2 linked regions of the Homo sapiens genome follow. The protein of the gene in region 1 purifies or fractionates together with the protein of each later gene. This does not show direct contact. Each region holds a gene or a part of one and is shown in the gene's direction. Other genes may lie near its edges.

Region 1 (3,987 bases):
TTGCATAATGAAAAGAATCAGCCAATCCATTATCCAGTTTCTTATGAATTCACAGCCCAGTAGGATCTCTGCAGATTTCTGCCTTCTGTAGAAAATGGGTTGCTTCTATAGCTGATTGCTGCAGCCAAGACAAACAACGATTTCTTTCTTTTTTTCTCACAAGACTGGGAGTGAGAATATTTGGATTCCGACATTGTTCTACTACTATATAATCAATAATCAGGAACAAGGCAAGGCAATTCCCTCTTTCTTTCTTTCTTTCTTTCTTCTTCTTTTTTTTTTTTTTTTTTTTTTGGCAGAGTTTTGCTCTTGTTGTCCAGGCTGGAGTGCAATGGTGTGATCTCGGCTCACCACAACCTCCACCTCCCGGGTTCAAGCGATTTTCCTGCCTCAGCCTCCTGAGTAGCTGGGATTACAGGCGCGCGCCACCACGCCCGGATAATTTTGTATTTTTAGTAGAGACGGGGTTTCTCCATGTTGGTCAGGCTGGTCTCAAGCTCCCGACCTCAGGTGATCCGCCCGCCTCGGCCTCACAAAGTGTGGGATTACAGGCGTGAGCAACAGCACCTGGCCCCCCCTCTCATTTTTTAAACGGTTAAAATGAAGGTGTTAGACCGTCTCTAAGGTTCTATACAATCAAAAATTTATTAAAATAGGTCTATATATTTTACAACAATTTTGACTTTCTGAATCTTGCATCATGGTGTCTAGAACATATGTGTTCAATTAATACTGAATTAATTAAAATTTATATACACTGATGTAAATATTTTCTAAGTAAAATCTTTCATATGTATTTAAATAAAATTTACCTTTTTGCCTTCAATAACTGATTTTCCCATGTGCAATAACGTGTGAGTCAGTGCCCAAAAGAGTCACTTGAAAGTTGCAAGGCAAAGCAGTTTTTTAAAAATTATCTAAGATTATCAAACACCGGTCCATGAACACTGTTGCATTAATTCAGTGTCTTAAAATGGATTTTTAATTATCAGGGATATCTAGAGCAAAGAAATCTAACAGGGAAATTTTGAAAGATGAAACAATTTTCTATGAAATCAGTGTATTGTGTGCATCAATGTGGTGCAGTAACTTAGTAAGGACTCACAGCGCCGCTGTTCACCAACCAGGGAAAAATGGTGCGAGAGATCCCACAGAAACCACCGAGTTTTACAGCACAGAGAAACGACAGATTGCGATAAGCCCTCTTCCAGGCTGCACTAAACTCAAGCCTCTATCCTGCTGGATTCTGAGCTCCCCTTCCTAAGACAGAGGGGTCCACCCGGATACACCCGCATTCTGAAGCACTTCCCGAGATCGGCGCCTAAGCAAGAGAAGCAGGACGACTATGGCGGCTCAGCCGAGGGGCGGGGACTACAGAGGATTCTTCCTGCTCTCCATCCTCCTGGGGACCCCCTGGGAAGCCTGGGCAGGACGTATTCTCTACTCCGTGTCGGAGGAGACGGACAAAGGGTCCTTTGTGGGAGACATCGCCAAGGACCTGGGGCTGGAGCCCCGGGAGCTGGCGGAGCGCGGAGTCCGCATCATCTCCAGAGGTAGGACGCAGCTTTTCGCCCTGAACCAGCGCAGCGGCAGCTTGGTCACTGCGGGCAGGATAGACCGGGAAGAGATCTGCGCTCAGAGTGCGCGGTGTCTGGTAAACTTTAACATCCTGATGGAAGATAAAATGAATCTTTACCCTATAGACGTGGAAATAATAGATATTAATGACAACGTTCCAAGATTCTTGACGGAAGAAATAAATGTAAAAATAATGGAGAATACAGCTCCTGGGGTTCGGTTTCCGTTAAGCGAGGCTGGGGATCCAGATGTGGGCACGAACTCCCTCCAGAGTTACCAGCTCAGCCCCAATCGCCACTTCTCCCTGGCTGTGCAAAGTGGAGACGATGAAACTAAGTACCCGGAACTGGTGCTGGAGCGGGTGCTGGACCGGGAGGAAGAGCGGGTTCACCACCTGGTCCTCACAGCCTCTGATGGCGGCGACCCGCCCCGATCCAGCACCGCCCACATCCAGGTGACAGTGGTGGATGTGAATGACCACACGCCTGTCTTCTCTCTGCCTCAGTACCAAGTAACTGTCCCCGAGAATGTGCCAGTGGGTACAAGACTGCTCACGGTACATGCTATCGACCTGGACGAGGGAGTCAATGGGGAAGTGACATATTCTTTTCGGAAAATAACTCCTAAACTTCCAAAGATGTTTCATCTGAACTCGCTTACAGGAGAAATATCAACTTTAGAAGGATTAGATTATGAAGAAACTGCCTTCTATGAAATGGAGGTTCAGGCTCAAGATGGTCCTGGTAGTCTGACAAAGGCAAAAGTACTGATCACAGTTTTAGATGTAAATGATAATGCTCCAGAAGTGACTATGACGTCTTTAAGTAGCTCAATCCCTGAAGACACACCTCTTGGGACAGTCATTGCTCTTTTCTACCTACAAGACAGAGATTCTGGAAAGAATGGTGAGGTGACCTGCACCATTCCAGAAAACCTACCTTTTAAATTAGAAAAATCAATAGATAATTATTATAGATTGGTCACAACCAAAAACTTGGACCGGGAAACACTCTCTTTGTATAACATCACACTGAAAGCCACAGATGGTGGAACTCCTCCCTTGTCCAGGGAAACTCACATATTCATGCAGGTGGCAGACACCAACGATAACCCACCCACCTTCCCCCACTCATCCTACTCAGTCTACATCGCTGAGAACAACCCCAGAGGGGCCTCCATTTTCTTAGTGACTGCACAGGACCACGACAGTGAGGATAATGCCCAGATCACTTATTCCTTGGCCGAAGACACCATCCAGGGGGCTCCAGTGTCCTCCTATGTCTCCATAAACTCTGACACTGGAGTCCTGTACGCGCTGCAATCCTTTGATTATGAGCAGTTGAGAGAACTACAACTAAGAGTGACTGCACATGACAGCGGGGACCCGCCTCTCAGCAGCAACATGTCACTGAGCCTGTTCGTGCTGGACCAGAATGACAACCCGCCCGAGATCCTGTACCCGGCCCTCCCCACAGATGGTTCTACTGGCATGGAGCTGGCACCCCGCTCCGCAGAGCCCGGCTACCTGGTGACCAAGGTGGTGGCGGTGGACAAAGATTCAGGCCAGAACGCCTGGCTGTCATACCTCCTGCTTAAGGCCAGCGAGCCAGGACTCTTTGCGGTTGGGCTGTACACGGGCGAGGTGCGCACGGCTCGGGCCCTGCTGGACAGAGATGCCCTCAAGCAGAGCCTCGTGGTGGCCGTCCAGGACCACGGTCAGCCTCCTCTGTCAGCCACCGTCACACTCACCGTGGCTGTGGCTGACAGCATCCCCGAAGTCTTGGCCGACCTGGGCAGCCTTGAGCCCTCCGACGGTCCTTACAACTATGACCTCACGTTGTACCTGGTGGTGGCGGTGGCCACAGTCTCCTGCGTCTTCCTAGCCTTCGTCCTCGTACTGCTGGCGCTCAGGCTGCGGCGCTGGCACAAGTCACGCCTGCTGCAGGCTTCAGAAGGTGGCTTGGCGAACGTGCCCACCTCGCACTTTGTGGGCATGGACGGGGTGCAGGCTTTCCTGCAGACCTATTCCCATGAGGTCTCCCTCACCGCGGACTCTCGGAAGAGTCACCTGATCTTCCCCCAGCCCAACTATGTAGACATGCTCATCAGCCAGGAGAGCTGTGAGAAAAATGATTCTTTGCTAACATCCGTAGATTTTCAGGAATGTAAAGAAAACCTGCCAAGTATTCAGGTGAGCCCAGCCCTTCCTTTATTTCCATGAGGAATTTATTTGCATGATATTTCTCTATTATTTTGCAAAACAAATGTTTTGAAAATAGGGATTTAAAAAACTTTATAGAGGTAAAAATGAGTTTACCAGTTTCCTTCAGTGGTGACACTTTAATATAGAACACATAGGATATAGTATTTCTTTAGTGAAAGCCTATGGACAAGATTATGAATATGTGG
Region 2 (4,132 bases), on another chromosome or scaffold:
TGGACAATGTATTGCATTCTCTTCAGGAAGAAATGGCAAGAGATACAGAGATGATTCCCCAGGCTACCTTCTATTCACTTTGGGAGTTAGTGGAAGACTGCCCTCTTTCCAACACAGTCTCTGATGAAAGGGATCTATTAAAAAGAATTGCGTTGGTTTACACTGCAGATTGAATGGAGCATTAAACGAATGACTGCATTAGTATGACTGCAGTGGGGGTAATGGTCGCCTCTGTAATGTTGTAATAATACTTTCACATACGTGTTATTACACGTATTAATTGTTCCAGTGTCCGTATCTAATTTATCGCGAAATGGTATCCAGCATCTCTCAGGCAAATGCCCCCCTCCCAACTCCCTGTGCCCTACAGTTTTATGCCCCCCGCCCCCGGCAAATGTAAACAGATGAGGAAATATGTGTACTTTCAAATCGTCACCCATGTATCATGAAGGTGGGGGATTACTGCAAATCACTTGGAAACCGCTCCCCGGAGGCGTTTAGCGATACCGCCCACCAATACAGCTCAGATGTTCTTAATTTGATCACCCTCCACCTTTTGGGCTGTAATTTTCCAAACAGGCATCTCTCTCATTTGCAAATAAAAGTTACAAATCAATCCACGGGTACAGAATGCTGACTTCCCGACACTCAATTTCACAGGGTGTCTCTTGAAGAGCTGCCAGGTTGTGACCGATAATGGGGGAGAGGGAAAGGCGGACAGCGAAAGCGAGAGAGAGAGAGCGAGAGCGAGAGCGAGAGAGAGAGCGAGAGAGAGAGAGACAGAGAGAGGAGAGAGAGAGAGAGAGAGAGAGAGAGAGACAGAGAGAGAGAGAGAGAGAGAGATCACTTGCTTCCTTGCTTCCTAAGCCGGGATTTTGCCTGCGATGCGCGGCGAGAGGACTGCGGCGGCTGATTTACACAGTTGGCGCGGAGGAGGGGCCGGGGGTGCGGGGGGGACGCGCTGGCGGAGCTCCGGCGATGGGCTGATCTGGGGGCTCCCGAGCGCCGCTCCCTTGGTGCGCGATTTGGGGGCGGCTGATGGATTTGCATTCAGGTTCCAGCCCTGCGTTTCCTATATTGACTCCTTATACACGACCTGGCGCTCCAGTTTAGGAGGAGACGTTGGTAAGTAACGTGTAATCCGATTTTAGTTATTTCCTAGGCCATTAAAGTGGCACTTTTAAAGCAGGTCAGTCTTAAAAGATGCCGCCGCCGCCGCCGCCGCGAGCGTCTCCTTGGCCTGAAACGTTCAGCAGTCCCCTCCCCCTCCCACCCCCCTCCCCCGCACCTTCTCCCGCTCGAGAAGTGAGGGTGCTTGAATGGTGAGCGGTCAGAGGACTCACTCTCTGCCAACGGTATCGCTTCACCTTCGTGCTTTGCCTGAGATCTCCCAAATCCAAGTGGAATTTGGTGTGCACAGCCATACTGTGTATTTGTATCTTCTCTCCCCCTCTCCTTCTTTCCCCCCACCTTCGCCGTCTGACCAATGCTGGGATCTGAGATCTAGTCGCCCCCTTCCTGCCTCCTTTCCGCCTCTCCCCACCCTTTTCTTCTCTCATCTACACGCCACCAACCCCCACTCCCACCCACCTAAAGGGCAAAGAGCAAAGACACCCTGGAAAAGCAAGGGCTAATTCCATCTTCTCGGATGGAAGGAGGCCTCGGGCAGGGATTGCGCTGTGAGTGACAACCTTTGAGGAAGAGAGAAAGAGAGAAATCCAGAGACTGAGCTCAGGCTCTCGGGAACAACGAAGCTCTCCACTGATCCAGAGCACCGAGATTTTAAATCAAAGGAACCTAGTCCTGGGACACTCACTCTGCCTGCCTGCCTACCAACCATCGAGGGCATAGGGAGCTGTGGTCGTGAGCTCCCTGTCGCTGGCATCGCCGCGCTAGGTGCGCGCCCCGCTCTCCCATTGGTATGCAGCGACCATTTCCCTGCAAGTCTCAAAGGTGGAAACATTTAAACGGATTACAAGCGTGATTCGGTAGCCTTTCGGAAAGTTGGTGGCCAGAAGAGGAGAAGCTACAAGGCTACAGTATGATGGATACAATTCAGCTTCGCAGAGAGTTTGCCCCTCCTGCTGGGTAGCCCCTCGCAGCAAACCTCGGAGATCCTGAGCGCTCTGCACCATAGGTACTCGCCGCCATCCTTTCCTACTTCGCCTAATTGAAACCAGTATTTCTCGTATGTAGGATGTGCATTGTAGAGCACATCGAGTTTGGCCGCGGTGTATTCTGTACGCTCACAGGTGCTAGGGGTTTGTTGCAGTTTTGAATTGGATCAGTTAGGTGTAAGGACGTTGGTGGAAGGAGGGGTACCGGAGACTAACATACCCTCGGACCTCTTTTCTGGGTGAAGACATCGTAAGTAACTCCAACAAATAGGCCAGGTGGCGGAGCGAAGGACCCCTCCCCCAGTGGAATGCTCGCTGGTGTTGTAAGAGGTAGAAGGAAAAAGGCTTGAGCTTTTAATAATTTTCCGTTTCTAAACAGACCATTGTGCGTTTCGCCTGACGACAGCAGATTAGAAAAGGCTCTATAGACGGCTCAAAGCTCTTCAGAAAATGAATGATGCAGCGTTTTAATTATTTGTTCTAGGGAAGATAGTTTTGCTTCCATATTGGAATACTTAATCTTAGATCTGAAAAAATTAGTGAGCTGTAAGATCCAGCAGTGGGGAGGAGGAAGTGGGAAGGGGGCACAGCAGGGAGAAAGGGCTTCTTGTCCTCCCTCTGGACAAACAAATGGCTCTGGGCGCTCCCAGCAGGACACGGAAAAAACTGGGGCCCCATGGCTCAATATTCCCTAACTTTTGGAGCCCTCCCTGTCCTTTAGACGCGCTATCCTGAGCTAAAGAAAAGGAAAAAGGTGAGATAGCCTTTAGGACACAGCCCAGGTCCAGAACGTAAGGGGTTTTAGTTCAAGAAATAACAGAGACTTCATTGCCGAGACAACATTTACCGTCATCTGGAAGCTCAGGGCAGCCTCCGGGTTACCCATCGATTCCATCACATCATGGGTTCCGATAACACCCGATAAATAGTCACCGCCTCTGCACATTGGGTACCCAAAGTGCTGGGCGGGGGATGGGGGGGAGGGTGCGGGTGCCGGCAGCTGGGGAGGGAGAGGGAATTGCTCTGATTCTGAGCTTAGGCTATCGGTATTGGTTTACTTCTTGGCTAAGACCTATGGGAGCAATAGGGTGAGTCTGGAATATTAAGGGTAGAATGTTAGAAAATTCTGCCCTCCTGCTTACTTAGTGTATGGTGGCATGTTTCTAAAATTAGCTACTGTCTGCCAGTGGACTCCTGTGCGGTCATTTTAAATGCAAAATATCATGGAAATTGCCTTTGACTGACTTTTAAGGAACACATTGTTAGGTGATTTACCTGTTTTAGAGCAGTAAGAAATTGACATGTAAGCTGTGCTTTGCTTTAAAATTTGCTTTTGTAAAGGGTCCATTAAGGGAAAACCATCTCTACCTACTAACTTTGAGTCCTTGGGCAATTGAGGTTCAGTTTAGTTCTTTAGCAACCAAAAAGTCCCTGCCTTCTCCCCTCCCGGCGAGGAGTTGGTGACAGGATTGGTGTGTGCTGGTGGGGGCAGATGGGGAGCATCCACAGCACACGGGTCCTGTTGATTAGACTCCTTTGCTGCACACTTGGCTCTCCCCAGTTTCCCCACCAAGCTGCATTCCTTCCCAGCAGGCAGGACTGTAGTGCTGTCAGCTGAGCCTTAAAAAAATTCCTCTGAAAGCGTTCCTGAACTGTCATCTGGTAGTCCCTCTACAATACAATATCTTCCTTCAATCACCTCCACCCCCACTCCCACTACTCCCTAGGATTCACTCCCCGAAAATTTCACGGAGAAATATTTGAGTTTAAAAAATAAGAAAGAGAAAGAACGGACAAAAGCATCCAAATCCTTAAATCCACCCCAATCCCGCGAGGTCTTTCCCGGTGGCGCAATGTGAAATGTACCATTGTTACCCAAGTGGTCTGTATCTCCTTCCAGAGAATTGGCTTGTCTCTGTTTTTAAAAAGTGGAAGAAAAGAAATGCTGTTGAATCCAGGGGCTATCGAAGGCTTTGACCTGCAGCACAACAAAAGAATTCCTGGTGCAACGGGAT

What was found. Proteins that work in one complex are often made in the same cells at the same time.
Region 2: the proteins of PCDHGA7 (region 1) and SLITRK3 purify together in Homo sapiens (affinity purification with mass spectrometry; one large-scale study listed by BioGRID and IntAct). This does not show direct contact.

The regions. Positions count from the first base shown.
Region 1 is NC_000005.10:141,381,555-141,385,541, forward strand, and holds the start of PCDHGA7 (protocadherin gamma-A7 isoform 1 precursor), read left to right. Parts: upstream 1-1,187; 5' UTR 1,188-1,345; coding exon 1,346-3,769; coding exon of another isoform or gene 3,770-3,799; exon of another isoform or gene 3,800-3,987. UniProt on the Homo sapiens protein: Potential calcium-dependent cell-adhesion protein. May be involved in the establishment and maintenance of specific neuronal connections in the brain.
Region 2 is NC_000003.12:165,193,585-165,197,716, reverse strand, and holds the start of SLITRK3 (SLIT and NTRK-like protein 3 precursor), read left to right. Parts: upstream 1-1,332; 5' UTR 1,333-2,137; intron 2,138-4,132. UniProt on the Homo sapiens protein: Suppresses neurite outgrowth.